Linked DNA regions of Homo sapiens. The protein of the gene in region 4 purifies or fractionates together with the protein of the main gene of each other region. This does not show direct contact. Each region holds a gene or a part of one and is shown on either strand. Other genes may lie near its edges. The genes, in order: PTPN3, MLF1, RAB43 and HEATR5B.

Evidence for each region.
Region 1: the proteins of HEATR5B (region 4) and PTPN3 purify together in Homo sapiens (affinity purification with mass spectrometry; 2 studies listed by BioGRID and IntAct, with this or other methods). This does not show direct contact.
Region 2: the proteins of HEATR5B (region 4) and MLF1 purify together in Homo sapiens (affinity purification with mass spectrometry; 3 studies listed by BioGRID and IntAct, with this or other methods). This does not show direct contact.
Region 3: the proteins of HEATR5B (region 4) and RAB43 purify together in Homo sapiens (affinity purification with mass spectrometry; 2 studies listed by BioGRID and IntAct, with this or other methods). This does not show direct contact.

The regions. Positions count from the first base shown.
Region 1 is NC_000009.12:109,495,296-109,503,140, forward strand, and holds the start of PTPN3 (tyrosine-protein phosphatase non-receptor type 3), read right to left. Parts: upstream 3,013-7,845; 5' UTR 2,924-3,012; intron 2,642-2,923; exon of another isoform or gene 2,368-2,641; intron 1-2,367.
Region 2 is NC_000003.12:158,566,294-158,574,204, reverse strand, and holds the start of MLF1 (myeloid leukemia factor 1), read right to left. Parts: upstream 3,012-7,911; 5' UTR 2,905-3,011; coding exon 2,858-2,904; coding exon of another isoform or gene 2,814-2,857; exon of another isoform or gene 2,612-2,813; intron 1,230-2,611; coding exon of another isoform or gene 1,166-1,229; intron 1-1,165. UniProt on the Homo sapiens protein: Involved in lineage commitment of primary hemopoietic progenitors by restricting erythroid formation and enhancing myeloid formation.
Region 3 is NC_000003.12:129,090,805-129,097,821, forward strand, and holds part of RAB43 (ras-related protein Rab-43), read right to left. Parts: intron 4,366-7,017; coding exon 4,182-4,365; intron 1,790-4,181; coding exon of another isoform or gene 1,710-1,789; exon of another isoform or gene 1,696-1,709; intron 543-1,695; coding exon 292-542; 3' UTR 1-291. Other genes in the region: ISY1-RAB43 protein, read right to left, coding at 4,221-4,365. UniProt on the Homo sapiens protein: The small GTPases Rab are key regulators of intracellular membrane trafficking, from the formation of transport vesicles to their fusion with membranes.
Region 4 is NC_000002.12:37,081,366-37,089,332, reverse strand, and holds the start of HEATR5B (HEAT repeat-containing protein 5B), read left to right. Parts: upstream 1-4,960; 5' UTR 4,961-5,064; intron 5,065-5,896; 5' UTR 5,897-5,918; coding exon 5,919-6,044; intron 6,045-7,577; exon of another isoform or gene 7,578-7,732; intron 7,733-7,967. Other genes in the region: GPATCH11 (G patch domain-containing protein 11), read right to left, coding at 893-951.

The DNA.
Region 1 (7,845 bases), on a different chromosome or scaffold from region 4:
GCTGGAAGGTGAGCTCTCCTGGGAAAAGATGTAGGGACCACAAATTGCTGGTCTTTTCTCAACCACCACAAACCCGGAGGGTTGGGGAAAGGCAGGGTGCCATGTCTTCTCACTCCCTCCCATCCCCAAAGCTGAGCCCTTCTGGTAGGTTATGCCTGTCCTAGAAAATGTCTCTTGTGTGCCTGGACCTGTAGTTCAGAAGGTCAAAATTGGTCCCTCTTGCTCCTGGCCCCACTCTACCTTTGCCAGCTCAGTTTCCTTATCTGCAAGGTGGGGAATGGGGTGGGGTTTGGCAGCAACAAACCCCACTGTGTGTGAAACCTTCCAGTTCACAGCCAACAAAGCGTTGCTCTCAATTCTCTGAAGCCAATTACCACCTCGGAACCCCAGCTTTTTCCAGGGATAAGATTTGTCTCTGACCTTGCCTCCCTAACCAGGTCTCTGAGACTTGAATGAGAATGCTTAAAACTACCAGAGTATCTTCTGTATGATAAAAGATGAATCGAGGGGTCAGAGACATGACTGATGATATGGTAAGGGATCCTGAATCTGCTTCCATGGTAACTTGGGCTTTTTCTCCTGCTCCAAGCTGTCTGAGGGCCCACCACCTGTCTGGCCTGACCAGGGCCTGCCCTTTCCTGCACGGAAGTGGATGCAGGCAACCTGGATTCTCTGGGGTGCACCCCACATCCCCACTCAGCACTACATCTGCCATACAGAAGTTCAATAAATGCCTCAGCTACTCTGAAATGCCTTCAGTAACTTGACCTTTTATATTCCCCAGCTAATGTCTAATTTGCATATATGAGTCCTTTTTAGGAGATGGCAAATCACCAGAGAAAACGCAGGATCAATACAGAGTATTAGGCACGTTCTATTCTACTCTAATTCTCTGCAAATTGGTATTCCATTAACTGCATGTGGGATTTATGGGAGCTCGCTATAAACTAGAATATTTAACTAGAATGGCCTACTCTGTCAGATAATAGCTTACTGTTGTTAATTTTCAACTAGTCAATCTCAGAAAAGTTTCCAACTTCCAATATACTTCACATCTTGATTTAATCATCCGGAAAGTCATCCATATCAAAGCCTCCATACAACAAAGGGACAGGCAGCTTGATGCAGAAGAAAAAGACCTGCCCTTGGAACCAGGAGACTTGGGTTACACCCCAGCTCTACCACATACTGTGTAATTGGCTGCTCAGAGCCTCCATGTCCTCATCTGTAAAATGGGAGTGACACCAGTCTCACAAGGGAGTTGTAAAGATTAAATAAGACGATACAGGTGAATGTACTCTGTAAGTTCTATAAGGCTATGCAAAGGTTAGTTATTACAAAAGCACAAGATGAAATTCTCAAACAACTCGGGCTAATGACAGAAAGCAAGAATTAAATTGGTGGTTCTAAAGGGGTGCTGGGGTGGCATTTTGCTCCCTAGGGGACATCTGACAATACTGGAGGCATTTTTGATTGGAACAACTGGGGAACAGGAATTGCTACTGGAATCTACAGACCAGGGATGCTTCTAAACCCTACAATGCCCAGGACACAAAGAATTATCAAACCCTAAATGTCAATAGTGCAAGGCTGAGAAACCCTGATCTAAATAATCGCTTAAAGTTGGATTTGGGAGCTTTTTAAAACAGAAATCTTCCTAAGCAGGCTTTACTTTCTCCCATCATCTGCTTAAACATTTGCAAGATGGATCATCTTGCAAAACAGCTCTTTTGTAAGTGAAGCCAACTGCCAACTTCTGGAGTTTCTGAATGTATAAAACTGCTTTTAAAGGAGATGCTCTCTGATTACAATTCGGCTAAATTGTTTTTCCGAAGGCCTTGACTTCGGCAGAAGTTCTCCTGGGCACAGAGACAGGGTCTGTCACTCCACCACTAGGCCCTGAAGATGGTTTCCTAATTCTAATTTCCTCCTGAAATGAGAGCCACGAGGGTCTCTAAACGAATTAAATTCACATCACGCCAACTGCTTGCTAGCTTTGTGCCGGGCACGGTGCCAAACACCTCCACATAATTTATCCCACTTAATCCACTCAACAACCCAGCGAGGTGGGCATTATTACCAGCTGATTGCAAGGGAGGAAACTGAGGACCAGAGAGGTTAAACAACTTGCCAAGGTCACCAGCTGGCCAAGGGGGAGCCCAACTTGAACGGAGGTCTCCAGTTTCCAAGTCACAAGCTCTTTCCACCAGCTTGGAAAACCCAGGTGTCAAGTTGTCTCAACTTCCCATGAATTTTTAAGGCAACCGCAACTTCTCAGTAAGTTTAGGTAGCTGAAAATGGGAATTTCGGGGGGGCTGGGCACTCTCACATACACTCCCCCATCTGCAGCTGTCTCACCGCAGGTACCTGATAAATCATTCCATATCGTCCGCGGAACGGGGAGGATTTATTGGCTCTGGAGTTTCGTGCCAGGCCCAGGAAATGCCATCTTTGAAAGCCGAGAGGCGGATTCGCCCTGGGAGCCGAGCGCTGGCAGCCGCTCTCGGCTAGCTCCCCGCGGGCTGTGTGCCCCCTCGGAGCCCCGAGCCGGGGTCGCGGCGGCACGGGGTCCTCCGGAGGTGCCGGACGCACGGGCTCCGCGGGTTGCGCCCGCCCCTGCCCGGCTGGAGCGCACGCCCACGCTCCGGCGCCGCGTCCCGGCCGCCAGCCCGCCCCGGCCGAGCCCCACCCGGCGCCCCGCCCGCGCCCTCCCGCCCCGGCCCCGCCAGGTGAGCGCAGCGGGGCGCCCCCTCCCCGCCCCGACGTGGTGCGGGGATCCCGGTGCAGCCGCACCCGCCAGCCCGCCCGCGCGTCCGCCGCGCGCCCCAGGGACGGGTGGGGGCGGGGTGGCGCCGAGCGCGACCCCGGCCCCCGGCAGCCCCGCACCCTGCCCCCGGCCCGCTGGGGTCGCACGGGCCCGTACCTGCAGCATCCGGGGGCGCGGAGCGCCCAGGTAGGTCGCGCGTGCGGGCGGCGCGGAAGCTCGCTCGCGGCGCGACCTGGCCGCCGTCTGAGCATGCCCAGTGCCGCCCGCGGGCGGTTCCCGCCGGCCGGGCTGGCCGCGACGGGCCCGCGCGCCGGGCGGGGGGCGGGCGTCCGGGCTGGCCTGCGGTGTTCTCCCGCCCCCGCCCCGGGCTGGCGCGCCCCGACGCATCTCCTAGGGGCACCGGGGCTCTCCGCCGAGCTCCGGGCAGGTCCTGAGTTCCCTCGCGCATGCATGCAGCCATTCGTTCCACAGCCATGACTGGGCACCTACTGTGTGCCAGGCCCTCAGTGATTTCATGCCTAGGGAAGGCAAGAAGTCGGCGCCCAAAGAAACTTTGAAATGAGGAGTCTTGCACGACGGGTGCGCGGTTGAGCTGAGGTCCCGCTGACTTCCAGTCCAGTGCTCGTCCCTTGGCACTAGTAAGCTTCCCTGGTTAAACCTCCCCAAGGCTCGTGGGACCCCTACCTGATCTGTGCTCCTGCTTCCCACCTCCGTCTCATCTCACACCTGCCTTCCTGCGGATCCTAGAGCGCCTTTCTGTCCATCAAACACTCGAACTTCACTAACCTCAGGACATTGGCGCCCGCCTTTCCCTCTGTGGGACGTTCTTGCCCAGCTTTTCACGTGGCCGGCGCCTTCTCATTGTACATAGGTCCCCTCCTCAGAGAGGCCTTTCCTGACCACCTTCCTCGATTAGCCCTCTGCTCCTGACCACTCCGTGTACTCTGTTTTCTTCATAGCATTTAACAGTGATTTATCCATTTTCAGCAAATATTTATTGAGCACCTATTCTGGTTTTTCTCGCGTGGGGAACAAATAGACAAAAATTCTGTCCCCCAGTGGAGTTTGGGGAAAGAGGGACAGGTAACAGATAAACAGCAAATTAGCAAACTATGCATTATATTAGAAAGTGATAAGTTCTAAGAGGAAAAAGAGCAGGGTCAGGAGATTTGGGGCTGGAGGTAAGCAGTGAATTTTCAGTGAAGCGGTCGGATAGGGCCCTTGAGCTGATGGACGGTCTGATTGGGTGACACTGAGAAGGTGATAGTGGTATTTCAGCCACGCAGATAAGCAGGGAAGAGCATTCCTGGCCGAGGGAACAGCCAGTGCCAAGACCCAAAAGAGCGCCGGACCGCTTAGGGAACGGCAAGGAGGCAGAGGAGCAGATGAGGTTGGTCACTTTGGCTTTTCCTCCGATTTGTTTAATTCTCATGTTGTATTTCCCTCCTAAATGTCAGCTTTGGGGCTGTAGCTCTGCTTGTCTTTACTGCAGTGACCCCCCTGCAACACTGTCTGGCACACACTAGGCGCTCAAACATTATTTGTTGAATATGTGAACGAAGGGATGCAGAGATGGTTGGAACCCTCCAGTCGGGCCTGGGTGCCAGGTCCTGGGGGCAGTCGTTCCAGGGATAGACTGAGGCCTCGGCAGCCCCTGGAACCTCATTTCGGTCCTTGTCCCGGAGTCGCACGTCCCGGGATAGCGCCGCTGCAGCGGGTGCCGCCCGTGCATCGCGTCGGGGGGATTTCCGACGGAGCCCGGAGTCCAGGGGCAGGACCGCCCGCGCCCCGCCCGGCCCGGCCCGGCCTCGAGTCGCCAGCAAAACCTGGAGCCGCGGCGCCCGCTCAGCACCACTCGGACGGGCGGGGAGCGCACTGGGCATGCTCGGAGCCGGGCGGGGCCGGAGCCCCCGGAAGGAGGAGCCCCCTGGAGGGGCAGGCGACGCCCCCCGCAGAGCTCCACCCAGCGCCCCCGGGCTCAGCAGGAGGCATTCTCTGTCCTTTCCCCACTGCCTTATCCTCTCTGTGCTTCAACCATTGTGAATACCTACGCTTCGATCTGGGCACCCGAGTGGAAGTTGAGTGAAATAAGGAACGTGAACGTGTTTAGACCACCTTAAAGATCCATTTCTTGAGTGCCTACCAAAATCAGCCGTCATCCTCATGCCAGTTTGCCAACTGCTGAGATGAGGAAACCGAGGTCAACGGAGGATGTGTGAATTTTCGAAGTTGTCTTAATCTGCTGACCCCTAGACTGAAATTACCTTTTCTTTTCCCACAGCTAACAGCTGTTAGCTTAAACGATGCCCTCAACTTTGAGCTAGGAACATGCTTACACCTAAAGGAAAGACCTAAATATTTTAAAAATCATGCGTTTTAAATCACCATAACAGAAGCAGGAACAAAATGAAAGAATACTCCCCAAATTGGAAACAAACTAAGTACTCAATAACAGAGGGATGATTAATTAGGTTATGGTATATTAGTTGAAATAATAACTATCTTACACTAAGTTAAAAAGACCATGTTGCAACAGGGAAAACACGGTACAATGTTAAATGAAAAAAAAAAAAACCGCAGAAAACAGGTCGGGTGAGGTGGCTCATGCCTGTAATCCCAGCACTTTGGGAGATCCAGGTGAGAAGGTAGCTTAAGCCCAAGAGTTCAGGACCAGCCTGGGCAACATAGCAAGACCCCATCTTTACAAAAAAAAACTTATCCAGGTGTGGTGGCATGCACCTGTGGCCTCAGCTACATGGGAGGCTGAGGTGGGAGGATCTCTTGAGCCAGGAAGGTCAAGGCTGCAGTGAGTTGTGATGGCACCATTTGTACTTCAGCCTGTATGACAGAGCGAGATTCTGTCTCAAATAAAAAAAAAAAAAAAAGCTAAAAACACAAATAGATTGTATAAACATGGTGTTGACACATTCACCAAGACTGGAAGGAAATATGGGAAAATTAACTAGTCATTTTTTTGGAGTAGTAAGTTTGGGTGTTTTTTAAAAGTTTATTAATGTCACAATGACATGTTTGCAATAATAAGCATTTAAAAGATCAAATTAAAAATTCTTGTTTTGTGTATATCCAGTTACAGTAACTGCTATTATCAAGCTCAAGTACGATGAATATTTTATATATATTCTCTCTTTAATCCTTACCATCACTCTACAGAGTGGGTGTTTTAGCTCAGTTTTACAGAAGAGAAAACAATCTAGGGGCTGTTCACAGCTGTTAAGGGGGTGAGGATTTGAACACAAGTCAATCTGATCTCAAAGTCAGGGTGTTAGGTTTTAGGACACACTGCCTCTCTGTGTAGTAGATTACCATGTATTGATGATAAGAGAAGCTATATGTCATCTAATTTTGTAGGGTTTTTTGCCTTATTTTCTCTACCCTTTGATGTGTTTGTAGGCTACAGATTACCTTTAAATGTTCTAGTCTCCTGTTACTGTTTTATTCTTGGGGCCAAAATGTTAAAGTCTATCCTTTTAAGCTGTTGCATCTGGAGTGACATAAGGTTATTATTACCAATGACAGTTGATCTTATATCATAAGCTCCCAAACCTTACGTAAATGGGGCTTTTGAATGGGCACATAATCTTCTTAGGCTATTGTTGAACTCAGCCAAGTGTAGAGCAAATTAAAGCCCAATTGGGAATAGAGCTGTACTCAGTCCCAGATCGACTGGTCCAGAGAGGACCCACATAGATTATCGTCTCTGGGCATTCACTTTGGAGGCAGGATCACAACATGATGGAACCACCTGGTCCATGGACTCCTCAGGGACTTTTCTGTGATGAAATGACAGAGAGCTGATAGTCCTGATGATGTTTGCTGAGAGAAAGCCAGGACCGTAAGAGCAGCCCTCCTCCTGCGAAGCTCAAAAATATAGTCACCTCTCTCTCTTAGTGCCAGTAGACTGTACCTGGCTGAAAGATCCAGAAACCGTGAAAAACAATAACAACAAAGAAAACAAAAGAGCATCATTTTATTGGAGAGTAAGATACGCTACAAACTGAATATACATCACAGGTAATGGACCAGATTCGTAAAAGAGGAACAAGAGATGAACATCTAAACATAGTTATTAGCAGCATTCCCAGAAGCTGCCATTGGGGCAGAAAATCAGGTGCCAGGCACTGTATGCAGGCAATTGGTTAAGGGAATTTATAGGAAGAGTTTCCTGGAAGAATCACTGAGGATTGTCATTCGCATCAAGACTTGGGAAGTCTGCCCTACTTGTACTGCTCCAGTGATTTACAAAGCAGTGCTCTGAGCTGAGATGCTAATGCTCATCAATTATTTGTGCTGTTAATGCAAGCTTATGAAGAGCCCGAGAATCCATAAATACATGGGCAAGTGGTGCTGTTAGAATGACATGAAAAGAATATGATGTAAAATACACATGGTATGGTATGTGGGAATTCAGTAGGTTGAACTATAAATTGCCAGGCAGGGTGCAGTGGCTCCCACCTGTAATCCCTGCACTGTGCGAGGCTGAGGTGGGAGGATTGCTTGAGGACAGGAGTTTGAGACCAGTCTGGGCAATGTAGTGAGACCCTGTCTCTACAAATAAGAAAAAAATTAGCTGGATGTGGTGGCACCCATGTGTGGTCCCAGCTACTTGGGAGACTGAGGTGGGAGGATCACTTGAGTCAGGGCGGTTGAGGCTGCAGTGAGTCCTAGTTGTGCCACTGCACTCCAACCTGGACAACAGCAAGACTCTGTCTCAAATAAATAAATATGAAATTGCCATTTTATGGGTCAAAATGGTTGAACATCGGTAACTTCCTGTATTTCAATTTAATGCATACACATAGAACAAAAACTAGAAAAACTGCACCAAAATATTATTGGTGGTGTGTCTGACTATTGCATTTATGTGCAGAGAGGCAGGCTACAGAAGTTATCTTTTACAAATTAGGAGAATTTCAAGTCTTTGGGTGTCTATTTTTTGTATGTCTTTATAGTTCTCTAAATCTTATGTATGTTTCTTTCATAATCTGGAAAAATGAAACAAATTCAAAAGTTGGCAAGCTAAAGAAAATGATGTAAAGAGAGGGAAAATGACTACTCCA
Region 2 (7,911 bases), on a different chromosome or scaffold from region 4:
ATTAACCATTTCATTTCCCACTGTTCATTATCTTTTTATTAATGTTATTTTGCTTTAAATTAGTACTAACATATTTAAGTCAATCATTTATTTAAACAACAACATTGGCTAGGTGCAGTGGCGCATGCCTGTAATCCCAGCATTTTGGGAGGCCGAGGGAGGCAGATCACTTAAGCTCAAGAGTTTGAGACCAGTCTGGGTAACACGGCGAAACCTCCTCTCTACAAAAAAAATTAGCAGGGTGTGGTGGCTCCCTCCTGTGGACCCAGCTACTTGTGAAGCTGAGGCAGGAGGATCGCTTGAGCCTGGGAGGCAGAGGCTGCAGTGAGCCGAGAGCAACCCACTGCACTCTAGCCTGGGCAACACAGTGAGACCCTGTCTCAAACAAACAAACACAGACGCACAACACACCCCCCACAGATATTGTTTGAAAAATATGTGCAATAAACTCTTATTTTAAGACCTTTTTAAAAAATGCTCTCCAAATTGCAAACCTAGAAAATTTAAGGGATCAAAATAAACTAGACTTGAAATCAAAATTCAAACTGGCAAAAAACACTTAGGCTAAAAAGTATTACAAATTTCCCCTCTTAGGGATACAACTAGACTATGTCAATGTGTTTGTAACAATGGCCAAAGTTAGAATTAAGGAAAAAAAATCCCACAACTCAAAAATAAATAATAGTGAAACCAATTTCTGGATGCCTTCTTTCTAGGGCATCACATTACTTCACTGGGAACCTTCAAAGGCAACGAATGGCACTTGCTTACCTGAGGTGTTAAATACACACCCCCCCCCCCCCGCCGCCCTCCTCCCGCCCCCCTCCCCCCGCCCCGCCCCATCAGCTTCCCTGTCCTATTTCTAGTTTTGACAGAAAGCGGAGTCCCTTCACAAACAAGGTTAGCTCTGTAACAAAGCGAGCAAAGAAAACAGCGCAATTGGCATGGCAACTTCCAACAACTTCGAAGAGAAAGCACAACTCTCCAACTTTGTCGTGCTCTCATTGACACATTCCCCACTCACATGGAAAATGCTGTTTTAAAAACTTCCCCTTTTCAATGAACTGTCATGCTATAAAATATTACCTGTTCCTATTTGGAATTTAAAGAGGAGCTATAAAATATTCCCTGCTCCCATTTGCAATTATGTGAACATAATTCTCACCATAAGTTTCACCGAGATGGTAGTTATGTCACCTGCAAAGCCCTTGAAGCTGCAAAGGCCAACTCTGCACACAGGAAGCCATGACGGGCACCCAAAGTCCGGCCAAATGGAAAGCAGCAGGCACCCCGGGAGTGTGAGGAAGGGCCTTCTTTCCATCTCATGCAGCCAAATCCTCCTCCCCCTACCTGGGGCCCTCAACTCTCTACCTCACGTCCTCAACCATCCTCCTGCGACCTCACGCCCCCAAACCCTCCTCCCCCCACTGCACGCCATCAACTCTCCTCTGTCCACCTCACACCCTCAACCCTCCTACCCCCACACCTCATGCCCCTAAACCCTCTTCCCCACACCTCATGCCCCCAAACCCTCCTCCCTCCACCTCACGCCCCAACCCTCCCTCGTCCCACTACCTCTCACCCTCAAACCTCTTCCCCCTACCTCACGCCCTCAACCCTCCTCCCACATCATGCTCTCAAGCCCTTCCCACCAACTCACGCCCTCAACCCTTCTCCCCAACCCTCCTCCCACACCTCATGCCCCCAAATCCTCCTCAGCCCCTAAATCCTCCTCCATCCACCTCACACCCTCAACCCTCTTACCGCCACCTCACGCTCCCAAACCATCCCCACCAACTCATGCCCTCAATCCTCCCCTGCACTTCATACTCCCAAACCCTCCCCACCAACTCACGCCCTCAACCCTCGTCCCTGCACTTCAAGCTCTTAACTCTCCCCTGCACCTCATGCTCCCAAACCGTCCCCCCACCTCACGCCCTCAACCCTCCTCCCCCCACCTCGCGGTCCAAAACCCTCCTTCCCCTCACCTCACACCCTCAACCCTCCCCCACACCTCATGCTCCCAAATCCTCCTCCCACCTCACGTCCTCAACCCTCCTCCTACACCTCACACCTTCAACTCTCCCCCACACCTCATGCTCCCAAACCCTCCCCCCACCTCACGCCCTCAACCCTCCTCCAAACGCCTCACACCCCCAAATCCTCCTTCGTCCATCTCACACCCTCAACCCTCCCCCCTCCACCTTACTCCCCCAAACCCTCCTCCTCCCACCCCACGCTCCCAAACCCTCCCCCCACCTCACAGCCTCAACCCTCCTCCCCCCACCTCACGCTTTCAAACCCTTCCCCCACCTCACGCCCTCAACCCTTCCCCTCACCTCACGCCCTCAACCCTTCCCCTCACCTCACGCCCTCAACCCTTCCCCTCACCTCACACCCTCAACCCTTCCCCTCACCTCACGCCCTCAACCCTCCTCCCTCCCACCTCATGCTCCCAAACCCTTCCCTCACCTCACGCCCTCAACCTCTTCTCCCCACCTCATGCCCTCAATTCTCCTCCCCCCACCTCCCGGCCTCAACTCTTCTCCCCCCACTCCCAGCCTTAACTCTCCTCCCCACACCTCACGCCCCCAAACTTCCCTCCGCCTACCTCACGCGTCCAAACCCTCCTCTCTCCACCTCATGCGCCCAAATCCGTCTCTTCCCTGTCTCACACACCCCTAAATCCTCCTCTCTCTTCCCTCCCAGGCCTCCAAATCCTCGTCTCCTTCAAACCGCCTCCAGAGTTACTCCGAATTCTCTCTCGCCCTCTAAAACTCGCTCTTTTCCCTTAAAATAGCTCCCCTCGATACCTTAATTCCCGCGCGACCCCGGACTCCTGGCTCCCGTAACTCACGAGAAGAAGGGGTCATCCTCAAAACTGCTGTTCAGCATCCTGAACATTCTGGCTCTGTCTTGGGTGGCGGCAGCCGCGGACAGATTGGAAAAACGATGTTAACTCGCCGCGGCCGCGACAAGAGCTAGCCTCCAGTACGGACGACGCCTCACTCGCCGCGGCGCAGGCGGTGCCCGCCGGGATAGGAGGTGCGTGACACCGAGCTGCTTTCCCATTGGACATTGCTCTGTGACGTCACCAGGACGAGGCGGGGAGCAATGCGCCGCTGCCCTGGCAACCGCAATCAACACAGTGGAGGCGAGAAGTCTGGCCTTGCGCCGGCCGGGGAGCTTTTCGCCAAGGCTCCTGTGGGATGGGATAGCTTGTTCTCTGGGCTGCAGGAACCAAAACATTAGACCACCCTTTCTGTGACCTTGGGCATGCCGCCCTCGGTTCCGAGCCGCAAGTCTTTCTTTCGGGGAAAATGAAAAGGGGTCAAGATTTGGACCAGATGACACCCAATGTCCCATTCAACGGTCGCATTCTGTCATCCACAGGAATTAGTCCTGTATCCGAAACATTCTCTGGTAGTCAAAAGCTGTGAGCAAATAATAAGAAAAAATGTGCAAAACGTTTTTTAGTACAGTTAGCAAATAGTGTACTCAGTTGTTGAAGGAAATGGGATGAAGCCTATCAGATTTCAACAAACTTATTTACCTCTTGAGAAAGCTGCTCTCTTTTCGGTTGTCCTTCTGTGTCTCTCTTTCAAAGATCAAGTCTCACTGCGATGCTGATATGTTTTTAACACTTCTCCAGCATTTCTTAACCTAACAGCAGGTTTCAGGCACAGGCCTGCAGCAAGCAGCCATATCCAACTAAAATTCCACTACTATATGTTTTTATTTGCATTACATTTATCAGGGAGCTTTCTATTTATGGCAAGGAAACTGATTTTAAATTTAAATCAGTGATATACATCAAGAGCTAGATTTTGCATTTTTAAGTGAAAAAGTAAGCTATCAAATAGAACAGGTGGAATTTGGATATGGTGGGGCGGAGGGGTAGGCAGAGCAGGGGAGAGGAACATCGTGATAGTGGTACTCAAATTACTAAGTTTTAGAAAACACTATCACGGGGCCTTTCAGGAGCCTGGAGACAGATGGAGGGGAAGACAGAAGAGAGATTAAGGAGAAGAATGGTAAGAGTATAAGAAAAGAGAAAATACATCTTGCATGTCCACCCTTAATTCAGTGAGCTCCCCAGCTTCTCTACGTGGCTGTCTTGCAGAGATAAAGGGGCGTCCATAGCTCATCAGGGCCCCCTGGGATCAGGCCAGAGGGGTGGCACTTTGCCAGCATGAAGAAGTGTGCAAGCCCTGATTTGGAGGTGACAGGAGTAGTCAGGGGTTATTTTGAGAGCTGGAAATTTAATCGTTTGGATCTTTTACTCCCCATCCCCCTTTTTTAGCCAAGTTCTCTGGCAGCTTCCTTCCCCTGAGACTGGTGGCATGGGGTAGGGCAGACTTCACAGCCCAAGATGAGATGGCACAGCCCATCCAGGAAAGAGGATATTTTCTTTTCCTCTGGACTCAGAATAAAGCTCAGAGAACATATACACAAAATTTCGAAAATTTCTAAATAAATTTCAAGGCAAACAAAATTGTTTTATAAGACCTTAAATTGTTTTTCTCTTTAAAATAGTATAAGCACAAGATGTGAAGGAGGCCACACTTAAAAAAAAACTTGAAATGGAGTAAGTTATGTGATAAAAGATGGTGTTAAAATAGTTCTGGATTAAGGCCAAGTAAATTTGTAATGTTACCCTCTAGTTTCTGTGGGAACTTTTTTAGAATCACATTGTTATAAAAGCTTTAGTCCAGGCACAGGTTAGTCAGGGAATTAGCTGAACCTTGTGAAAGCAGTTTGGATCTAATGACAAATGCAAAAAAAAAAAAAAAGGAGGGCAGAGCAGAGTTGGCACTGAAGAGACCTTGACATCATTTTCAGAACTGATGGGTAAGAGGTGGAAATGAAAGAAAGCGTGGGTCAGGAGAGAATGAATACTCCAGCATGGGAGGAATAGAGATGCAGAACAGGACTGAGAGGAGAGGGTCCTGGACTTGGCTGTAAATATAATCATAATAGCTAATATTTATTGAATGTGTGCCAGGCACTGTTGTAGGCACTCCATATGCATTACCTCATTGAATCCTCATTAGCAGTTTTATGGAGTAGAGATGGCTTTTATCCCCATGTATAGATGATGCATTCAAGACACAGAGAAGCTGAATAAATTGCCAAGGTTCACACAGCTAGTAATTGAACTGAGCTGGGTACCTGGAGCTTTCCTCTGTGAGTGCTGGTTATATGGTATGTGAGTGATGAGTCATACTTAAAGATGCAGGATGAAAGCGGGTAATCATTTTTCAAAATCATGCTGACAAGCTAAATGGACCCAAACTAAAAAGTACAAAATTCAGTGGGAATATATTCACATCACATAAATTCAATTCTACAAATATTTATTGAGTGACTACCCAGTGTTGGGGACTGATCTACGACCTTAGGCATCATTGAACAAAACGGACAAAAATCTCTGCCTTCCCGGAGTTTATGTTCTTGTAAGGACAGACTCAAAATAAACAAAATAGAAAATAGTATATTGTAAGGTGATAAGTGTTAGGGAGAAAAGCTGATCAGGGTAAGGAGTATGGAGAGGTGCAATTATAAATAGCAAGTTTTGTGTACGCCTCACTAAGGGGAATTTGAGCAAAGACCCACAGGAAGGAAGTGGATGTCTAGTGGAAAAGCATTCCAGGGCAGTGCTAAAGTAGCATTTGCCTGGTGTATATAATGTACAGTCCTACTCATATGCCTTAAAACTCACCTTCTGAGTGAGGAATGAGATGAGCCAAGTAAACTGAAAATTGCCTAATAGGGTAATAGCTCTCATTTACACTTCATATATTCCAAGGATTGCACTAAGTGCTTCACATATGTTTTCTCGTTTAACCTTTACAGCAACCATGTCTAATATTATGTTTATCCCTAAATTGCATTAAAAAAAGCTGGGACCCAGATAAATTTGATAATTGAATTTTGATAATTGATTTGAAAGTTGATAATTTGATTAAATTTTGATGATTGAAATTTGATGTCACTCAATTCAAACCCAGATTTGTCTTACCCCAAAGCCTGTATCCTCACCACCATCCGTACTTTGCCTCCCTATTTTAAAAATTAACTATTTATGGAGCAAATATTTGCAGTAAACACTTTTACATCTATAATCTGTAACTACACTGTTGCTTAGGTTTCATTTGGAAGGACACTGACTAAGGAAAAACAGAGAAAAGGATGAAACCCAAGCCAACTCTGCAACTCTATTAAAAACACCAAGACTTCAATATGTAAGTGATTTCGTGTTTCTTTCATTAATTTATCAAATACTTATTAAGGACTAGTAATATCCCAGACATTATTCTAGACACTGAGGTTACAAAACTCCCTGGCCTTTCGGAACTTACATCCTAGTGGACAACTCTTTCCCCAGCTAATTTTACAAATACTGTTACAGCACCTCAGAATTTTCATAATGTTTCTGAAGACATTATCTCAAGTGCCCAAAAGAAAATAAACAGGCTCTTGAGTGCTGAACTTTTAACTTAATTATAGCTTTCCAGAGCCGTGAATATTAGGCCATTACAAACACCTTTACCACAATTAAGCTCAATGTGTCTAGGGTTTCGTTGTCCTAATCCCTTTGTCTTAAACAGTGCACAGAGGTCCTCTGAGAATGAGATGCCATAGCAAACTCACAAGGGGCTATGGGACAAATTTTGAGAGAAACTTGGCATGTGTTAGACATTGTTCAATGTACTAGTTTAGGGCAGTTCACATATTTCAATATTAGATTGCACTACATTGTTTTAGATGATGTCATATCATTGGAAAGGTAGGTTTCTGAAAGTTACTATGATGAAAATGAAGTACCTGTCAATGTGGAACAGGAAAGATTGGTGGCAACATTCAGTCTGTTTCTAAAGTTTGAAAAATTGTGCTGTGCTAGGCGGGCACCCATCTGTTAGTATGATTATTTAAGAATTATACAAAAATATGTTTCTTTCAATTTATGTGCATTATTTTTTAAAGGTACTGAGTTTTTAGGTCAGAAATACGCTGTTTGTATCTAAATTATACAATAACGGACCTATTCAGTATTTCTTTAAACCTAGGGGGCACAATGAAAAAATTACTGAGGAACTAAGGGCTCATGAACTAAGATAGTTTGGGGACCTCTGTCTAATCCCACAATCTTTCTTCAAATTAAAAAGAAATGTAAAATATCATGCATTCCTTTTCTAAAAAATATGTTTCATTTTATTTTTCATGTTTATCTTCTTTACAGTCAGCTGACTTACCAGTCCTCTAACAGTTTTGCTTTATATCTTTTTGAAAGATGGGAAAATGGTGCATACCGATTAAGTGACCTGTAAGAGCATAGATCCCAAGGTCTTCAAACTCCCAGTAGGGCTGCCTCTAGTCCATAATGGCATCTTTGCTCAAATTAGAAAAAGTGCCTCCCTCTCATGATACTTCCATTAATGAGAAATTTGTCTTAATAAATAGACAAGGCTGTAATGTATATGATTTGACTGGTGCTCGCTTAGGTGTTGTATACATGTCCATGGCAGCGCTGTTCCTAATCTTGAATTCTTTCCGCTACATAGGAGTTAATTGAGTGCCAAGCTTCATCCCCAAACTCCCAAACTCATGTGCAAGAAATGTAATTTTATTTTCCTGCAATCAACCTTAATTTATCTTCTGGGCTTACATTCCACTGGGAGTCACTCCCATTTCCTCTTCCACGGAGACAATGCCAAGGTGTAGTTGGTTGCTAGCCATGCTGCATTCCTGAAGTCATCTTTATTGCCCTCACTGGGTAGGGCCAAGGGTACTAAACATCTCACTATGTGTGGCACGGTCTGGCACAATGAATCGTCCTTCCCTAAATACCAATAGCAGTCCTCTCCTTTTAAGAAATACACTCTCTAGAGCAAATATTTCCTCCAGCGA
Region 3 (7,017 bases), on a different chromosome or scaffold from region 4:
GCTGGCCCCTCCTACTGTGGCCCACACCGGCGGGTTCAGGCCAGTCTTGGAATGTGAAGATGGTGGAGGGCCAGCTGCTGGCTGGCAGGGTGGCCCGCCAGGGTATCCTGCTTCCCCTTCCTCAAGGAGAGCCTCCATCCCGCAGCCAGGCCACAGGATGCAGAGCTCCAGAGCTTCACCCGGCTGCTGTAGTTGCCGGTACCCAGGAGGGCTGGCTCTGGAGGGCTGGGCTTGGCAGGCTGGGGAGAGCAAGGAGGTGGGGAACCCCCAGTCTGCCGGCCCGGCCCCTGGTCAGCACCCGCAGCCCCAGCCTTCTCCGATGTCCTTGCTGTTCAGCTGGATGTGGTCGGGGCTCTTCTCGCTGAACAAGGGGCCCCCGTGCCGCATGATGAGCTCCGTGGCCACCCTCAGGAAGGCCTCCTCCACGTTGCTCGAGTCCTTGGCAGACGTCTCAATGGCACACAGGATGTCATAGTGCTCAGCCAGGCTCTGTGCCTCAGCCAAGGAGACCTCCCGAAGCTCGCTGAGGTCTGACTTGTTCCCTGCGGAGGAAAGCCGGGGCAGCATGAGGCCATGGGGGCTGGGCAAGCCCAGTCCCACCTGGGAGGGTCACGCTGACAGCCCCATGCCACTCCCTTCCACCACTATAAATGGACACCCCTGGCATGGTCATCTGTCTTTCTTTAAAAAACCTTTTTTAGGCCGGGTGCAGTGGCTCACGCCTGTAATCCCAACACTTTGGGAAGCTAAGGCAGGAAGACTGCTTGAGCCCAGGAATTCAAGACCAGCCTGGGCAACACAGTGAGACCCCGTCTCAATTTACCCAGATCCTCCTAGATGGTATGAGATGACTTCATTACATTCCAAACAATCTGTTAAATTGCTCCTTGACCCAATTTCTAGAATAATTTTTTAAAAGTCTCTACATGGTTGACTTTTGTAATGTGGTTATAAGGAAGACAAAAAAAAAAAGAGTCTGGGCCAAGCGCAGTGGCTCATGCTTGTAATCCCAGCATTTGGGAAGGCCGAGGTGGGTGGATCACCTGAGGTTGGAAGTTCAAGACCAGCCTGGCCAACATGATGAAACCCCGTCTCTACTTAAAAAAAATACAAAAAATTAGCTAGGCGTGGTGGCGGGGGCCTGTAATCCCAGCTACTCGGGTGCCTGAGGCAGGAGTGGCAAGCGGAGGTTGCAGTGAGCCGAGATTGTGCCACTGTACTCCAGCCTGGGCAACAAGAGCGAAACTCCGTCATAAAAAAAAAAAAAAAAAAAAAGTCTGTAAAGATCTAAAATTTCCTTGGTAACCTTAATTGATGTAGCAACCAGTTTCAAAGTGTGAAACTTATTTGGATCCTGATCTCAACAAACTGGAAAAAATAAAACACATATGAATTTTATGGGCAATTATAAATCTGAATACAGACTGGCTATTTTATATTATTAAGGAAATGTCAGTATTTTTAGATGAGAAAATAATATTGCTGTTTTTAAGTGTTTAAATATTTTGTAGGTTCATGCTGGAATACTGCCAGGTGAAATGGTTTGATGTGAATTTGTCTCAATAATCCGAGGGAGGGGAGGTGACATGGTACAGATGAGAGGAGGTTGGACTTCAGTTGCTAATTGCTGAAGCAGGGTAATGGGTACCTGGGGGCTCATTATTATACTATTCTAAGCCAGATATAGTGGCTCACACCTGTAATTCCAACTACTTGGAGGTTGAGGCAGGAGGATTGCTTGAGGCCAGGAGTTCAAGATCAGCCTGGGCAACATAGCAGGACTGCATCTCTAAAAATATATGTATGTATATAAGTATGCATAAATAAATAGATAAAATACTATTTTCATAGCTGTATAAAATGTTCTATAGGCCGGGCGCGGTGGCTCACGCCTGTAATCCCAGCACTTTGGGAGGCTGAGGCGGGTGGATCACGAGGTCAGGAAATCGAGACCATCCTGGCTAACATGGTGAAACCCCGTCTCTACTAAAAATACAAAAAATTAGCCAGGCATGGTGGCGGGCGCCTGTGGTCCCAGCTACTCGGGAGGCTGAGGCAGGAGAATGGTGTGAACCCAGGAGGCAGAGCTTGCCATGAGCCGAGATCGCGCCACTGCACTCCAGTCTGGGCGACAGGGTGAGACTCTGTCTCAAAAAAAAAAAAAAGTTCTATAATAGAATGTTTTTTAATTAATTATTTTTTGGAAGACAGAGTCTTACTCTGTCGCATAGGCTGGAGGACAGTGGCACGATCTCGGCTCACTACAATCTCCGCCTCCCAGGTTCAAGCGATTCTCCTACCTTGGCCTCCGCAGTAGCTGGGATTACAGGTGTGTGCCACCATGCCTGGCTAATTTTTGTATTTTTAGTAGAGATGGGGTTTCACCATGTTGCCCAGGCTGGTCTTGAACTCCTGAACTCAGGCAATCCACCCACCTCAGCCTCTCAGTGTTAGGATTACAGGTGTGAGCCACCATGCCAGGCTGGAATGTTTTTCAGAAATGTCCTGGATAAATGGGAATTGGTGGCTGGGTGTGGTGGCTCACACCTGTAATCCCAGCACTTTTAGAGGTCGAGACGGGTGGATCACGAGGTCAGGAGATCGAGACCATCCTGGCCAACATGGTGAAACCCAGTCTCTACTAAAAATACAAAAGTTAGCCAGGTGTGGTGGTGCGTGCCTGTAGTCCCAGCTACTCAGGAGGCTGAGGCAGGAGAATTGCTTGAACCCGGGAGGCGGAGGTTGCAGTAAGCCAAGATCGTGCCACTGCACTCCAGCCTGGCGACAGAGCGAGACTCCGTCCCCCACCCCCAGCAAGAAAAGGTGGGGAAATGGTTAGGCTACGTGAGGAAAGCTCTGTTCATGCCAAGCACTCCATGTCCTAGTCTGAACAGGCTGTGGAAGGCAGGCCACATGGAACCAGGCACCACCCTCTTCCTGGCTGGAGTCAGGTCCAGGCCCTGTCTGTACATTTGAGTCAGAAGAATCAACCTGTTGGCCCAGCTACTCGGGAGGCTGAAGCAGGAGAATCGCTTGAACCAGGGAGACAGAGGTTGCAGTGGTTTTGCAGATCTTGCAGAACCAAGATCACGCCACGGCACTCCAGCCTGGGTGACTGAGTAAGACTCTGTCTCAAAAAAAAGAATCAACCTGTTGGGGTGAGGACCCCAGGGATAACATAAGAGCTAAAGAGCTTCTCCAGTCCAGGTCTGGGAAGGTTATATAGAAGGAAAACAAAGGTAAACAGCATCCTTCCACAGCAGCAGTTCTCAAAGTGGGATCCTTGGACCAGCAAGGTGGGTGTCACTTGGGAATTTGTTAGAAACGCACATTCATGGGCCCCACCCAGCCCGCCTGGATCAGATGCTCTGGAGGTTGAGGCCCTGCAGCTGCACTTGAAGAAGACTTCTGTGGGATTCTGAGGCACGGAAGCCATCAAGTGTCCCTGCTCTGTGTGCGGCACAACAGAGAAAGCCACAGACTTGAGGTCAGCAGAAGCAAACTCAAAGCCTACATGTGTATGCTCACAGGCCATGTGGACCCGGATAAATCACTGCACTTTTCTGAGCCTAGCCCCAGCCCCTGTCAAATGAGGAGAAGCCGGGGTACAAGAGCTAAATCTTGACACATGTGAAGAACAGCAGAGCAAACTTCAGCTCTCTTTCTTCTTTCCTCTAATTCCAATTTTGAATATAACTTTCTTTTTTTTTTTTTTTTTTTTTTTTTTTTGAGACGAATCTTGCTCTGTCACCCAGGTTGGAGTGCAGTGGCGTGATCTCAGCTCACTGCAAGCTCCGCCTCCCAGGTTCATGCCATTCTCCTGCCTCAGCCTCCCCAGCAGCTGGGACTACAGGCGCCTGCCACCACAACCGGCTAATTTTTTTTTATTTTTTTAGTAGAGACGAGGTTTCACTGTGTTAGCCAGGATGATCTCGATCTCCTGACCTTGTGATCCGCCCGCCTCAGCCTCCCAAAGTGCTGGGACTACAGGCGTGAGCCACCGTGCCCGGCCTTGAATGTAACTTTCTAAGTGATTAGCAGGATCAGGATTTGCAAAACCATGGCTCAAACTCTGGCTGGGACTCCCTCTGAACTCAGGGTTACACTGTGTTTAAAAAGCAGAGGGAGGCATGGACAGGCAGAGTGATGGGATTTGTGGTCCCGAGGAATCCCCAACTCACCGATCAGCAGCTGCACAATGTTGGAGCCCGCATACTTCCTCACATCCTCAATCCAGTGAGGCACCGACAGGAAGGAGCTCCTCTTGGTGATGTCGTAGGCAAGGATGGCCCCATTGGCACTGCGGTAGTAGCTCTGGGTGATGGTGCGGAACCGCTCCTGGCCGGCCGTGTCCCAGATCTGCAGCTAAAGAAATAAGGTTCCTCAGTGAACCCAGTGGCACAGGCTGAACATGGGGACAGGCAGAGTGACCCCACAGACCCACACCCAGAGCTGTGGTTCCACTGGGCTAGGAGGCCTTCTGAGTCCTTAGAAAGCAACTCAATGGCTCAACCTTGTTGGAAAAATGGGGAAGCAAAGGGAAGGTGAGCAGCCCCTGTCCTGGCCCTCTAGGGTCCCCAGGGAAAGATGGAGGAAGGGGTACACTCTGAGCTGACCCAGGTCCTCCGCGTGCCCCTCCGTGTGCCCCTCTCCCCTCAGGACTGGGCCCACTGCTGCGAAAACAGAACCACCAGTGCTCAAGCGGCCGGCGGCTGGAAAGCTGGCTCCAGGTGCACTGCACGGCCAGCAGTAGGCACGGCCAGGTACCCTCCCCTACAAGAGCATCACGTACCCAGCTGTGTGTGAGGCTCCTCCAGCATTAGGGTTCCCTCAGGACTCTACAGCTTGGTGATGAGGACTGTGGGAAGGGTGACTGGTGGTGGCAATGGGCAGAGTCCTCCCATGGGGCCTTTAAGTACAAGGCAGTTTCCACCAGCTGACCCAGCTTGGCCAAAGCAAGGAGCTTTGGCCACCCATGTCTTCATTTAACACCTACTCTGCCCCATCTCCCACCAGATGTGGGCTGTGGAGAAGAGGTGCCCATGGGTGGGAGGAGCTTCCCTAGTGTCTTTTAGAAGCAGAGTCTGGCAGGATGGATACCAGGCCAGGTAGGGGCAGAGGTCTGTGCGGGGCCAGGAGGCTGCCCACTCTGGGCAGAGATCACCAGCCAAGGGGCATATGCCAGGGATCTTGGTGACCAAACACCTTGGGGATCGGGTGTGCCTTCTCTGCCCCACCAATCACAGGTTCTCATGGCTCTCTGAAGACTGACACCCAGCTTGTGGCGTGTGCCAAGCTGCAGGTCCATCAGCCCCCTTTGCAGGCACAAACACTCGGGGTGTCTCTTTACCTAGTTCTCAAGGTATGTGAGAAAGGTCTTTCTCTCAAGGTCTGTCTGGGGTGGGGAAAAGCCACAGAGGCCCAGACAGTTCCTGAAGGCAGGGCCTCTGCCCCTGGCACTGTGGAGGTGACCACCATTGCCCCAGCCCCAACACAGAAGTCTGAGAGTGAAAGCTCTGGGCCACAATGTGCCAAATAAGACTCCTCTTTCCTGAGTTGTCCCATTTACTCCTCAGTGAGTGGCTCTAAGAAAACCAGGCCTATGTTCCATAGTTCATGCGTCTTGCAGCTCATGCATGGCAGCATGGGGTGAAGTGCAAGGTTTATGTGTGTACCACACAAGCCTGGGATCCAGATAACCTCTGGTGTGGAGATAACTCGTCTCCACACATAACACGAAAGACACCGGCCAAACAACAGCAAAAACACAACACAGAAGAAACAACACAGAGGCAAAGTACTCAAACAATCGTCAATGTTTCAGAAATAGGGAAAGATTCATGGAACAAGGAAAGAATAGTATCTTTTTTGGTGAGGCGCATTCAGAAAGAAAAAAGAGCTCAATTAAAAATATGATTAACATACATGAAAAATGCAACATCAGGGTTGGAAGATAAAGTTGAAGAAATCCCTCCAAAGTAGAGAAAAAATACAAAGAAATGGAAAAGAGAGAAAATAAAATTGAAAGCCAGGTGCGGTGGCTCAAGCCTGTAATTCCAGTACTTTGGGAGGCCAAGGCAGAAGGATCACCTGAGATCAAGAGTTCGAGACCAGGCTGGCCAACATGGTGAAACCCCATCTCTACTAAAAATACAAAAATTAACCAGGTGTGGTGGTGCACGCCTGTAATCCCAGCTACTGGGAAGGCTGAGGCAGGAGAATCGCTTGAACCTGGGAGGCAGAGGTTCCAGTGAGCCGAGATCACGCCACTGCACTCCAGCCTGGACGACAGAGTGAGTGAGACTGTCTCAAAAAAAAAGAAAAGAAAAGAAAAGAAAATTAAGAAGCAGCCTAGGAGAGCAGGATAATCAGAGTTTCAGAAAAAGAGAACAATACAATCAAGGAGAGGAAATCAAGTATTTCAAGAAAAGTATCCAGAATTGACTGAGGGGCCCACCAGGCACACACACAATGGAGCAGAGCAGACCACACTGCATCCATGGGCAGAAGTTCCAGAACAACAGGCAAGAAGAAAGAACACAAAAGACCCATGTGGCATTAGACAGCCAACAAAACAATGCCTTAAAATGAGGAGAAAAATTATTTCCAACCTAGAATTCTCTACCCAACCAACCAGTAGTCAAGTGTGAGGGTTTAATAAAGGCACTCCCAGACATACAGTCCTCGAAAAATTCACCTTCCTGCTACCCTTCCTCAGGGAGTGACTGAAAGTTCCTCTACCTAAAGAAATCAACAAAAAATAAGAAAATGTGGGATCCAGAAAACAGAGAGTTCAACTGAAAAGGGAGGCAAAGGGAGATGCCAGGATGATGGAAAGAGAGATAAATCCCAGGATAATACCTGAGCAGCAGCCTAGACATCAGCCAACTTGGAGCCGGTCAGAGGGCTCCTGGAGCAGCTTCCAGCCATGGCAGCATCGCTGGTGGCAGAGTAGCCCTCCCTCCACACACACCACAGGACTGGAGAAAATATATGAGGCTGTCGTTTTTGGAATGT
Region 4 (7,967 bases):
AGCCTCTCAAAGTGCTGGGATTACAGGCGTGAGCTTCCACGCCTGGCCAAGTTTTCTCATAACTCTGTCACTTACTCACCTGACAACAGTTAATATTTCGGCACTACCTCTATGATCATCTTTGTTATTATGATATTAGAACATAATCAGTGACCTCTAAGAATGGCTGTTTTAGTAGAAATGATGAAGGCTGGTGCCAGATCATAGGAAAATAAGGAAAGCACGAAGTTGAAGAAATCAGATATAGTAAGTTTAGACTTACTATGTTTCTAGGATGTTGGCAATAATAAAGAACAAAGTTGTATAGCAGCTAGAAGAGACAATATGATGTAATAAAGGAAAAGGAGTAAATTTCCTTGGAAGAAGGCAATAAAAAGGATCAAGGGCAAAAGTAAAATGGTTAGCATTAAAAGGAGGAAGTAGATTCTAGTATCTTTCTATGGTGACATAGGAGGTATTTCCATAAAGCAAGAAGACTGACTTTCCCACTGCACATTTAAAATCACTGTCAGGCTGGGCACGGTGGTTCATGCCTGTAATCCTAGCACTTTGGGAGGCCAAAGCCGGAGGATCGCCTGAGCCCAGGAGTTGGAGACCAGCCTTGGCAACACAGTGAGACCTTGTCTCTCCAAATAATAAAAAAGAAGAGTTAGCCGGGCATGATGGTGCAGGCCTGCAGTCCCAACTACTCGGGAGGCCAAGATGGGAGGATCTCCTGAGCCTGGAGAGTTTGAGGCTGCAGTGAGCTAAGATTGTGCCACTGCACTCCAGCCTTGCTAACAGAATGAGACCCTGTCTCAAAAAAATAAAATAAAATAAAATAAAATCAATGTCATTTCTTAATCTACACATCTTATACATATCATTGCACTGGGTGTGCACATTTACTTACTGGACATTAATGAAGGAATCAGACATATAGTCCTCTTCTTCTGCCATGTTCAACTTCATATGGCTATAGTATCTACAAATAAAGTAATAATTACTTTTTTTTTTAGTTTATCAGAATGGAAATAAACCTTTCTGTATCTGCAGCCATGAGCTGTCTCTAGAGCTCTACTATATATTCAAGTGCCCTTTGGACATCTTTATCTGTGGACATTTCAAACTCAACAATCTAAACAACTCATTTCTTTCCCCTTTCCCCAGCCTTCTACATCCCCTGTGTTTCCATGTTGATGTCATCATTATCTCCTTCTTCCTGACCTCTTATGAAGCTGTCAAGTCTTCCTCCATAAAACTCCTCACAGACGTTTTCTCTACAGTTGTGACCACTGCTTTAGTTCAGGCACTTTTTTTTTCTCACCTGAACTATTACAACAGCTTCTTAATCAGCTTCTTAGTTGGTCTCCTCTTCCAGTCCATTCTCTGCACCCCATCCAGAGGTTTTTTGTTTATTTGCTTGTTTGTTTTTAAATACAAGTCAGGTCACGTTACTAGCCTGTTTCAAATCCTTCATTAAACCTGACCCTGTAGGCAGTGGGGGACCAGTCACTTTTGCAAAGCATGAGATGTTGTCCTTCATAATCTGACACAACTGTCCCTAAGGATTCATTATTCAAGCCCCATGGCTCCTCACTGCCCTCTGAACAGAGTACAAACATTTCTTCCCTGTAGGCCAAGGCTACCCTCCCTTCAGAAACCTCTCCTGACCACTCCAGGCCTTTCTCTACAGCACTTTATGTCCAAGCTGCTCATTTGGAAGTTGATATAGTTAACAACTCACTTATGTGGAAATATTTTGAGGGACAGTTTCTATCCAAAATAGTTAAAATCATGTAATTATTGGCCCTTAAAGGGTTAAAGTAATTTTCTACAAAAGTACTTCTCAAACTTTATTGTGTATACAAATTGCACTGAGATCTTCTTAAAATGCAGAATCTGATTCTGGGGCTGGAACCTGAGGTTCTGCATTTCTAGCAGGTTCACAGGCAATGTCAATGTTGCTAGTTCAGTTGCTTAAGACAAAAGTGTATTCACTTGTTGTGGTGCATATGTACTGTTTTTTCCTGCCTACCATCTTTTCCTTTGGGAATCCAACCCTCTGCCCTTCATGTGGTTTTAGTGGAGGGTGGCAATGTCAGTATCCCATATTTCCTTGGGCACAAAGATGGTCAATTATAGTACTCTATGTCCAGCACCAGGGGACGAGATGACCCAGCCAGAGAAATAACCATCTTTTTCCTTACATTATATGAATATATGGGTTGTGGGGGAAAGAAGGTCTTTTATGGGTGTTTCTGAACTGGGAGAATGTGAAGCTGGGCTGTGGATGGCCATCTTCTTGGCCCCATGAAGGGATCTTGTCTGAAGAATGAAGCCAGATAGAGAAAATGAGCCTAGTTTCCAAGGCTGCGGATTCTTTGAAGCTGCGACTTAGCATTCTACCCCATTACATAGACTAATACATTTCTGCATTACTTAAGCTTGCTGAAGTAGGGTTTCTGTCAACTGCAACCAAGTGTCTAGACAATTACACTGGATGAAAAAAGGATTACTATACTAATTTTTAATGGTTTTCTTTTTTGTTTTTTGAGACAGAATCTCGTTCTATCACCCAGGCTGGAGTGCAGTGGTGTGATCTCAGCTGACTGCAACCTACACCTGCCGAGTTCAAGCAATTCTCATGCCTCAGCCTCCCGAGTAGCTGGGATTACAGGCATCCACCACCACACCCAGCTAATTTTTGTGTTTTTAATAGAGACAGGGTTTTGCCATGTTGGCCAGGCTGGTCTCAAACTCCTGGCCTCAAGTGATCCACCTGCCTCACTCGGTCTCCCAAAGTGCTGGGATTACAGGCGTGAGCCACCACACCTGGCCTGGTTTTTTATATTTTTAATGTATATCTTCTCAACTAGATAATGTATATCTTGTGTTAAACACAAAGACAAGTCCCCTATATCCTCCCTACCTACCACTGCATCCCAAACACAAATGCTTAATAATTGTTTAGCAACAATGAGGATAAAAAGGGTCTTTAATATTTGTAATTTTATAACTTTTTCCTATGTCAACAAGTCATTTTTAAACACTTTTTAAATACGTACAGAAAACACATAAAACAAATGTACAGCTTAATACATTTCTGTGAGTCAAACATTCTTGTAACCATGTGGTACCCTCCAAAATGACTCCCAGTCATTCTTGCTGTGTGGTTTTCTACATCCTTAGTGTAGTCTCCTTCCACAGTGAACAGGATTAACCTGTGTAACCAACAGGATTTTGTGGAGATGATGGAGTTGATTTTTTGGTCATAACTGCAGCTCTTAGGTCATTCTAACTTTGAAGTTAGATGACTCACTTGAAGGAAGTCAGTGGTCACATAATAAGGATACTCAAGAAGCTCTATGGAGAAGGTCACACGATTGGAACTGAGTCCTCCTATTAAAAGCCAGCACAAACTCATGAGCCACAGGAGTGAGCTACCTTGGAAATGGATTCTCTTGCTCCAGTCAGGCCTTCAAATGACTCAGCCTGGGCTGGCATCTTCACTGCAACTTCTTAAGAAAGTCCATGCTAAACTAAGCTAAGCTGCTAACAAATTCCTGACCCATAGAAACTGTGAGATAACAAATGATTACAGTTATCTTAAGCTGCTACATTTGGGGATAATTTGTTATGTAGCAAAAGTTATCAGGAAGTAGAACCTTATCAGGCACCTGGGAGCCCTCTTTGTCCCCTATCCAGTTGCAACTCTCTTTTGGTTCTAAGAATAGTCACTATTCTGTTTTTTATGGCAATCATTTCCTTCATTTTCTCGATAGTTTTGTCATCCACGTGTGCATCTTTAAACATTACAGTTTAGTTTACCTATTTTTATTATAAGTTAAAAACGTGCACTATTATATACAGCATTTATGGTAATTCACCCGCTTCCTCTAAACCTCAGATTCTTCATTGGTAATAACAGCATTTTTACACATAATGGTTTAACACTTACCCAGTATATCACACATTTTTATCACATTTAACCACCACTAACAACTCTACAAGGTAGGAAGAGTTTTTCCTGTTGGAGAAATTAAGGTTCAGTATGGCTAAATGACTATTTCAAAACCACAAAGAATCCGGGTCATAGTGCCTTGCAAATAGGATTACATTGTTTTTAAGAGACCTACTTAACTTTAAAGTGCCAGGCACATCTGAATGGGGTTACAGGTTGCTTTTAAAGCTCTCTTTCTATTGGTAAAATATACTTTAGCATTATCCATTTCCATCAAAGATAAGCATAAACTTCACAAGGCGATACCCTGGCAGAGATGATGGAGGCTCGTACCAGAGTGATAGCAATGCAAGTGGTCGCATTTGGGGTACACTTGAAGGTAGAGCTTACAGGATTTGCTGATGTTGTAGGTAGTACGTAAAGAACGATGTCAAGATAACGCTAAGTTTTTGGCCTGAATACATGGAAGAACGGAGTTAACGTTTTTTGAGAGTGGGAAGACTGTAGGAGTAGGTTTGTTTTTGTTTTTTTAGGGGGCGTAGTCGGGAAACAGACATATTGAGAGTCCCATTACATATACAAGTGGAGAAATGGACCTACAGTATAAATGTGACAAGAAACGTCCCACTCTCAATACTACGCTCAGGAACCGCTGATCCCTTCCCTCACGCGTTCCTCCTGGCTGCAAGCGTCCCACAGACGCAACCACCCACGGATGGAAAAGTGGCTGACGGTGTGATACGGTAGTCATGGCCAGCGCACTCTGCCTTTTATCATTCTACCGGTTGTCCCCAGACCCTTACCTGACAGCTCTCTTACCTGACAGCTCTCTGCTCGCCCCGGTTCAGCGCCGTAGAGCGCGCGCTGCGCATGCGCCCACCGACCAGCGTCGGACTTCCGGACCTCGGCTCCCACCAGTTTCCTAGTGCAGACTCTATTGGAAATTCGCGGCGGGTGGGGATAGGAGGACGTGGTGACTGCGCTTGCGCAAGACCAGCCCTCCGCGCAAGCGCTCTTCCCTTGTTTCCTGCAGGTAGGAGTGCGGGAGGTGGGGCATCCGGGTCTCTTGGTGGCTGCTTCTACCCCCGGAGCTCAGCTGATCTTCCCTTCCAGACTACGAGGTGAGGTCGCCGAAGCATGCATGTTGACACGCACGGACTCCTGTCCGACGTACATTTTCAGACGGGTGGGGAAGACATTTGAGTTCGTAATGAACATTTTCCCTTTTCTGGCTCCGTGCTTAGTTCCGAGCTGCCGCCTCGTGCTATTGACAGCCTGCGGAACCCCACGGAGGCTTGCGGCGGCCTCTTGGTGTTTCCCCGGGTCCGCCGCTTGCGGTTCTTGGAGTAGCCAGGTGAAGCCAGACCCCGAGCGCGCGAGGCTTCTCGGGTGCATTCCGGACCGCCTGGTGTTGTCACTGACGCTTCGGCCGCCGGGCCTGGCCGCCCCACCCATCCGCGTAGGAAGAGTCTTGGAGACCTGCAGTTCGGGATGTCTGTGCTGGGTGTTTTGACCTCAGTCCCTCTGGCCAGGTGCAGCGCGGGAGGGTAAAGGTGCTATGTACCGAACCCTGGACGAGAAAAAGAGGAGGATGGTTGTCAAGCCCGGCTGGGGTGTTTGATCTTAGTGCTTCAGTTTTTTCATTTATAGAACGGGTAAATGACATATGTGTTGCTGGACATATTTCTTCTGGAATAATGCCTTTTTTGGCAATAATTTCTTTTAATTTTCTTTTCACTCCATGAGTCACTCTTCCTTACCAAGTAGTTTTCTTCTGTTTTTGTTTGTATTTTTGTCATTTAAAAGTATGTTCTCAGGTTTTGCCTCAAAGAAGTTGAGTTTTTCCCCAAATGAAATGAGTAGTCCTACTTTTCTTAGTGAGTATATTCCATTAAGCTTGACTTTTAACATTAAAAAATACTTACAAGTATTTTTTACTCTGTTAAATTTAAGGTGTGAATTTCAAACTTCCGTAATGGAGTTAGCCCACAGTTTATTGCTAAATGAAGAAGCTTTGGCTCAAATCACCGAAGCAAAAAGACCAGTTTTCATCTTTGAATGGTTGCGATTTCTTGATAAAGTCTTGGTTGCTGCCAACAAGGTATGGTATTGCTCTTTTTTCCCAGTTGCATTAACGTGAAGAGATTATGTGGTCATGATTCTTAAGAAAACACATGTTATGTTTTGGAAGGTTTATGGGTCACTTATGGAACTTGAGAGTATTACACGAATGGGAAATTTAGTGGCAAAACTCAAACCTCGTTTAAATCCAGCTCATTGCCTATCTTCTTTATGTTTGTACCTGGGCAGCTCATTGTAACTGGAGAAAAACATGGCTATATGACTGGTGTCACTTTAAATTTATCATCGTCACCCGTTGCAAGTGATCTCTCTATGCTGCCTAACAATCCCAGTGTCTTCACTTATCTCTTTGAGGAGTCAATAATAGGCTCTTTTTTTTTTTTAATCTGTTTTTTCTTCCTGCATAGCCTTGATTTGCCGAGACCAGCTCGTTTGGGGAGACCCTAACCTAGCGGCGCTAGAGGAATTAAAGACACACACAGAAATATAGAGGTGTAAAGTGGGAAATCAGGGGTCTCACAGGCTTCAGAGCTGAGACCCCGGAACAGAGATTTACTCAAGTGTCTATTAACAGCAAGCCAGCCATTAACATTGTTTCTACAGATATTCGATTAGCTAAAAGTATCCCTTATGGGAAACGAAGGGGTATGCTGAAACAAAGGGGTGGGTCTGGCTAGTTCTGTGCAGCAGGAACATGCCCTTAAGGCGCAGATCGCTCATGGTATTGTTTGTGGTTTAAGAGCGCCTTTAAGCGGTTTTCAGGCCAGGTGTTCCTTGCCCTCATTCGGGTTTCGTTATGGCCATCATGAACATGTCACAGTGCTGCAGAGATTTTATTTATGGCCAGTTTTGGAGCCAGTTCCCAACATTGATTCAACTTACTTTTTATTGTCTGTGTATTTTATATTCTGTCTTTAAAAGTAGATATGGCCCGGCATGGTGGTTCACGCCTGTAATCCCAGCACGTTGGGAAGCTGAGGTGGGTGGATCACCTGAGGTCAGGAGTTCCAGACTAGCCTGGCCAACATGGTGAAACCCCGTTTCTACTAAACACTGCTAAAAGTACGAAAATTAGCCAGGCGTGGTCGTGGGCGCCTGTAATCCCAGCTACTGGGGAGGCTGAGGCAGGAGAATCGCTTGAGCCGGAAAGGCAGAGGTTGCAAGGAGCCGAGATCGCACTAATGCACTCCAGCCCGGGGGACAAGAGTGAAACTCCATCTGAAAAAAAAAAAAAAAAAAAAAAAAAAAAAAAAAAGTAGATACTTCCCTCAAATGTCTGATGATCTTTGGCTGCCTGATCAAATTTAAAAGTGAGTAGTAAAAACTTTTCTCAGCAGGGCCAGTCTTTTAAACTGGACTTCACTGTAGGCTAGTTTGGTCCCTGACCTTAGTATTTTAGGTTTCTGTAGGCTAGTCATTCCCCAGAAGATACTTTTCTACTGTCGTGTCTGAAGAGTATATAGCTAGCTGGCTACATTCTTGGAGTTGTGGGAGAAGACTGGGGACTTTAAAGTTCAGTATGTGAACTTTCACTGCATCTCCCCATTTTCAGTGCAGTTTTCCCAGACCGCAACTGTGCCTGGACTCTTCTAGTCTGGACATACAATATTTCACTCTTCCCAGAGAATAAACTTTCAGTCTGCTTCCATAATGAAGAAGAGGATTCTTTCTGCTTATTAGACTCTCAACCATTCCCTCTATCTCAAGGTACATACAACTTCACTCCCACCTCCAAAAGCACCTAGGGCTTAAAAAAACCGTGATCTCTTAGGGGGTCCTGTGTTGTAAGTTAGGTCATTTTGCAGCTTTCCCTGTTGGGAACAGTTGGTTTCCAAATACTGTGTTGATTCTTTCTCCTGTTTTCTTTACCCTTTGGATTTGTGCTTTGTTGTTATTGTTCCTGTTGTTGTTGCTACCCTTTAGTATGGTTTTAATGGAATTT